Homo sapiens: one gene and its partner. The protein of the gene in region 1 interacts with the protein of each later gene in a pairwise test. Each region holds a gene or a part of one and is shown in the gene's direction. Other genes may lie near its edges.

What was found.
Region 2: the proteins of NNMT (region 1) and BMF interact in a two-hybrid assay, tested with the Homo sapiens proteins (one large-scale study listed by BioGRID and IntAct).

Annotation. Positions count from the first base shown.
Region 1 is NC_000011.10:114,309,627-114,313,451, forward strand, and holds part of NNMT (nicotinamide N-methyltransferase), read left to right. Parts: intron 1-2,418; coding exon 2,419-2,851; 3' UTR 2,852-3,825. UniProt on the Homo sapiens protein: Catalyzes the N-methylation of nicotinamide using the universal methyl donor S-adenosyl-L-methionine to form N1-methylnicotinamide and S-adenosyl-L-homocysteine, a predominant nicotinamide/vitamin B3 clearance pathway.
Region 2 is NC_000015.10:40,089,579-40,092,148, reverse strand, and holds part of BMF (bcl-2-modifying factor), read left to right. Parts: intron 1-260; coding exon 261-362; 3' UTR 363-2,570. UniProt on the Homo sapiens protein: May play a role in apoptosis. Isoform 1 seems to be the main initiator.

The DNA of each region.
Region 1 (3,825 bases):
CTCACATACCATACAATTAATGCACCCATTTAAATTGCGAAATTCAGTAGTTTTTAGTATACTTTCAGAGTTGTGCAACCTTCATCACAATCAATTTTACAACATTTTCATAATTCTCAAAAGAAATCCTGTACCCATTAGCAGCCACTCCCATTTCTCTCCAAATCCCTCAGCTCCTGGCAACCACTGGTCTGCTTTCAGTCTCTGTAGCTTTGCCTTTTCTGGACATTTCATATAAATGGAATCATACAATATGTGGCCTTTTGGTTCTGGCTTTTTTCATTTAGCCTGTGTCTAGAAGGTCCATCCATGTTGTAGCATGTGTCAGAATTTCATTTCTTTTTGTTGCCAAATAATATTCCATTATATGTATATATCACATTTTATTTACCTATTCAGAAGTTGACGGTTGCATTGTTTGCACCTTTTAGCTGTTTATAAACATTCATTACAAGTTTTTGTATGGATATATGTTTTCATTTCTCTTGGGTATATACCTAGACAGATTTCCTGGGTCATGTGGTAACTCTATATTTAACCTTTTAAGGAACTGCCAGACTGTTTTCCAAAGTAACTGGACTATTTTACATTGTCAGCAGCAGTGTATGTAGGTTCCAGTTTCTGCAAATCCTTGCCAACACTTGGTATTATCTGTCTTTTTTATTATAGCCGTCATAGTGATGTGAAGTGGTATCTCATGGTTTTGATTTGCATTTCTCTGATGACTGACAATGTTGAGCATCTTTTCATCTGCTAATTGCTAAGCTCCTTAAATGGAAAATTATAGGAAGCATAAAGCATGTTTGCAAAGAAGTGATTATATTCGCTAGGATTAAGATTTTAAGTGAATATTTAAGATGCCCATGACTAGTGTCCACTCTCTCGAATCAAGTTTTATTTAAACCATTGACTTTTCCTCATAACTGGAAATGGTCCCAGTGAAAGTCTCCCTCACTTGCTGGAATGTGGGGCCATCTCTGCTGTCTGTCAAGCCTTGATGCCCAAGTGGCCATTTTCTCCTGGAGTCTGCATCAGATGGTAGAGTGTGTGTTTCCTGAGTGTGAGACTGGATCTGCTCCACAATGCTTTGCTGGTTAACTCCTTCCAAGAGTGCAATACCCAGGGGTCACTCCTACTCTTAGTGCTCTGGGGCCTGGGCCCTTAACACACTCAATGTTTCTTCCCCTTTTCTCACTTATCTGATCTTCTGCTACTTCTTTCTCCTTTGTCCGCCCCTGCTCTCTGGTTTCTCTTGTACACTCTGTTTATTTAATTTTGATCATTTGTTTGTTTGTTCCTTTCTTCCTCCTTTAACAAATTCAAATAGGATACAAGCCACTCTGTCCCATCTCCTGCCCTTGCCTTCTCTTCTTTCATTCTTTTATTAACTGATTTTTCTCTTGAGAAATCACCACTGGGTCAGGTGTGGTGGTGGCTCATGCCTGCAATTCCAGCAGTTTGAGAGGCTGAGGCAGGAGGATCACTTGAGGCCAGAAGTTCGAGACCAGCCTGGGCAACATAGGGAGACCCTGTCTCTATAAAACATAAAAAAATTAGCCTGGTATGGTGGTGCAAGCCTGTAATCCCAGTGCTTTGGGAGGCTGAGGTGGGGAGGATCCCTTGAGCCCAGGAGTTTGAGGCTGCAGTGAGCTGTGATGGCGCCACTGCGCTCCATCCTGTGCAACAGAACAGGACCCTGTCTCTAGAAACAAAACAAAACAAAAAACCCAAAACATGCCATTGATTTGGCAGAAAAGGACAGGGTTCCTGGCAAGGCTACCAAAAACATGATCTCTGTCAGAAAACATACTATCTGCAATATTTGTTGGAATCTGAGAATGGGAAATGTAGCTTTCTTCTCTCCAGGAGTGCCCTGTTCACAGCTGTGGGATAATGATCAATAGTTCCTAAAAATATCTATGGAAGACCTCACCACTCTTATTGATCAGCAACTACTGCAAAGATAATGTTTCAGCATTTGAAACCCCTTATTATTAATACTTATTCTGTATGGGTCAAGTAGCCGCTAACTTACAGTTTGGCAGATGGATCAAGTATAATAATAATAACCTATAAATACTAATAAATGAGCCAGTATAGTATAAGTGAGTACTATACTAAGCAGTGAAGGAAGAATAATTTCATGGAGGGAAGTCCACGGTAGAAGCAGGCTGCTAGGTATTATTATCGTTTTCACATACTATTCACTTTATGAAGAGATTTAACATAGCTCAGGGTAATATGGTCTCATTCAAATGCCAAAATGACCCCTCAGTTCTTCTTTCTCTCCTTTCCCGATAGAGGTGGCCCTAAGGACACACATCTGGGACAATACGGCCATTTTTAGCCTTGACCCAAGAGATCTGGGTTCCCCATGACTGGAGTGGAAAACAATGTCTGTGGGTTTGTGTTTTTCAGAGTCAAGGGTCCAGAGAAGGAGGAGAAGTTGAGACAGGCGGTCAAGCAGGTGCTGAAGTGTGATGTGACTCAGAGCCAGCCACTGGGGGCCGTCCCCTTACCCCCGGCTGACTGCGTGCTCAGCACACTGTGTCTGGATGCCGCCTGCCCAGACCTCCCCACCTACTGCAGGGCGCTCAGGAACCTCGGCAGCCTACTGAAGCCAGGGGGCTTCCTGGTGATCATGGATGCGCTCAAGAGCAGCTACTACATGATTGGTGAGCAGAAGTTCTCCAGCCTCCCCCTGGGCCGGGAGGCAGTAGAGGCTGCTGTGAAAGAGGCTGGCTACACAATCGAATGGTTTGAGGTGATCTCGCAAAGTTATTCTTCCACCATGGCCAACAACGAAGGACTTTTCTCCCTGGTGGCGAGGAAGCTGAGCAGACCCCTGTGATGCCTGTGACCTCAATTAAAGCAATTCCTTTGACCTGTCCAGTTGACTTTAGTCCTTGTTTCTAACTGCCAAGTCATGTGCTGAGTAGAGGCTCAGTGGTTGGGGCCCAATGGTTCATCTAGGACGGGACTAGAGAGGTCAGTCTACAAGCAATCCATTGACCACTTACTTGGTGCTGCACACAAATGTTGGTGCTATGGGACCCAAAGATGAGCAATTAGTATTCCAGTCTTCATTGCCTGTGCTTACAAAAGAAGACCTCACTTCCCTAAACATCTAGTTATGGCGGCTCAAGCCCGTACCTGCCTACAGAGAAGTGTCTGCAGTTACTCACTATTAGTTTCCTAAGGGGGCACTGCTGGCTCCTTCTCTCCCAGGAATGGGCTTCTCCTATTCTTTAACTCTTGCCTTCTCCCTGGAGAGGCTACCAAACCCTGGCCTCTGCCGCTGTTCAGGCTGCCATGTGGGTATAGCTGTTTGCTAGACTCCACTCTGGCCTCAGGGGCCAGAGAACAGCTGTCCAGCATTTCTGTTCATCCCAGCAATCCAAAAAAAAATTTTTTTAAGCTACAAAGATCACTCCATTTTCAAATTCAGACTCTGCCACTTATTAGCTGTTTCTCATTAGGCAAGTTATATAACCTTGCAGTGCCTCACTTTCCTCATCTATAAAATGAGATTAAAATAGTCTTTTTATTAAGAGAATTAAAGTGAATTGTGGCCAGGCACTGTGGCTCATGCCTGTAATCCCAGCGCTTTGGGAGGCTGAGGCAGACAGATTGCTTGAGCTCAGAAGTTCGAGACTGGCCTGGGGAACATGCAAAAACCCTGTCTGTATTAAAAATACAAAAAAATTAGCTAGGTGTGGCGGCATATGCCTGTGGTCCCAGCTACTCAGGAGGCTGAAGTGGGAGGATGGCTTGAGCCCGGGAGGCGGAGGTTGCAATGAACTGAGATCGCACCACTGTGTTCCA
Region 2 (2,570 bases), on another chromosome or scaffold:
TCCTCTTGTGCATAGTGCATATAGAGCCTAGTCTTTTCTTTTTAATGTTAAAACTGCAATTGTTTTTGGAGAACTCAACTCTCTCCTCCACATGGCAGTGTCTCTTTCACCTCCCCCTCCTCCCCGCTGTGAGCTGTACTGATAGGATTAAAGTGCCAGCCGTGAGACTTGGAGATCTGAACTTTTACTGGAAATGAGAGGGAGTCGTCTAAGATTGCGTTTGGGAGTTATGTTGGTCTTTTTTTTTTTTCTCCCTTCAGCACCAGCAGAACCAAAATCGTGTGTGGTGGCAGATCCTCCTCTTCCTGCACAACCTTGCTTTGAATGGAGAAGAGAACAGGAACGGGGCAGGCCCTAGGTGAGGGTGGGCTGCCCTCTTCACATGGGGCACCAGGAACACCGTCTGGAACAGGAAGGACATCGGGCAGGACTGACACTGTGTCTTGTGAAATTGTTTTTTTGTTGTTATTTTGTGTTTTAATTTTTTTTAATTTCTCTCTGAGTGTACATACAACATACTCAAGCGGGACCTTCTTTCTCTGTCAGGCCCTTGACCTGGAATGGGGGCCTTTGTCAAACACTGTTGAAGGAGAGGCTGATGTGTCTGTGATGGTGAGAATTCCCAAGGGCTCTGACAAGTAGATTCTTCGACTGAGGAATCTACCAGTTGTCGAAGATGATCCGTTAGTGATGTTCTCTGGGAAGTGGACTGTGGTTTTTCCAGAGGAACTCAGTTAAGAAATCGAGAGTGGATTAGACTCCCAGTTCCACCAAACCTATGAGCCTTCCACTGTGGATGGGGGCCGTGATCCTGATGGTCACATTGCTTTAACCCAGCAGGGCTTCGGCCAGGGGCTTTCCACTTGAGGATAGCAGCTTCACTAGGCTGGCCGGCCAGCTCCACATCTGACTGGGTTCTTACTTCTCAGCCAGTACCTGCCCCATGGGCTCAAGGATTCCTGGCCAGCTCCTGCCACCTCCAGCAGACCTCAGGGAGGGTTGAGTTTCTCTAAGGACCCCTCAAACATGTCGCAAAATGAACCAAACTTCTGGCTAGGCCTCAAAACTGACTTGGTCCCACTTGGAGGCCCCAGGATTGGTCCTGAGGTACAGAGCCACTGCCACCACTGGCGGCCTGGGACCAGCTGGGTGTCAGCCACGGATGAGCCGAATAGCCAGTCAGCATGTTGCTGCTGGCAGCCTGTGCCTTTGTCAGCTCTTCTTTCAAAAGACCCCACCGACAGACCGCATTCCACCCCCAACATCGGCACTGAGGGACATCGGGGGCAAGTTTGCAGTGGGGCCGGAAAATATGGTGGCCACCCTACCATGAGAGTCAGCCGTAGGGGACCCCAGACCCCTTGGTTTCCTTGGAAACAACATACCTCTTCCCCCTTATCCCCAGTCCTTTTTCATACCTAGTGGGATACAGAAGAAGCCAGGACAGTGGCTTTGCCAGCTAAGTGACTTTTAGAGTAACAGATAACGATTAGAGTGGGGAACCGTCAAAGCTGGGTACACATTTCCTATCTTCCTCCAGCTTCCAGCTAGGCCAGAAGGGCATGCTCTGGAACCCAGCAGGATCACAGCTGCCTGTGCACGTCTTCCCTTCTCTCCCTGCTGCGGCACTTATGGAGAGGATCTAAAGCAGCCGGTGTGGCAGCTCCGATAGCAGGCACAGGGAATCTGTTAACCAGACGCTAGAAACTAAATTATAACTTTTGCATATGTGAGAAAAGACAACATTGGTGCTAACAGTGAAGTAAGGCCCAAAGGAAAGACGGCTTCCCTGGACAAAGAAGACCTCAGGGCTACCCAAGGAAATAGGAGGAGTCTAGAGTAGACTCACAAATCTGAACAAGCCCAAGTCTTCCAGTTCTGAGGAGAGGAGGTCTTCAGTACTATTGAAGGAGACATTGATCTTCTGGATGTACAGTTGTGCAGGTTGTTCACTGCACAAGGGCACCTGCAGCTAATGGAGGCTGGAATTCAGCTTGTGTTCTGCTCACTAAGCTGTGTGCGTGCCCTGGTGTGGGGCTACTTCTCCCAAGAAGAAGGGGTGCCTTTCCTAATTTGCAAAGGTGCCATATGGGCTCACAGCACCCTGGAGGAGAAGGGCCTCAAACTGTGCATGTAAGCCTTTGTTTTGTTCTGCTCAGATATTCTGGATATTACCTCTTCTTGGTCAGAATTCTATTCTCAGGGTGTGTACCATGATTTGTCTGCTAAGAAGACGGGTTCCTGCTTTGCAGAGAAGGAGCCGGGGACCAGCTTGAAGACTGGCTCTGGGACACACTGACCATTGTGAAATTCAGCCTTCCCTGTGGGTCTCCATACCATTTTATGATGTGTATGGGACATACGTTGTTCTCCCCTCTCTGGATCAAGGTGGTGACAGGCAGCCTGCTGCCGTATGCTTCAGTGGCACACACCAAAAAACCGGGATTATTTACAGCAGCCACTATTCACCCCTTTTGGCAGACTCTCCACCTGAGTTCAGTGAGAGAGAAAATGATTTAGATCTTGGTGCTGGGGCAAGGCCATCAGCTTCAGAGACCTTGCCAGGCCCA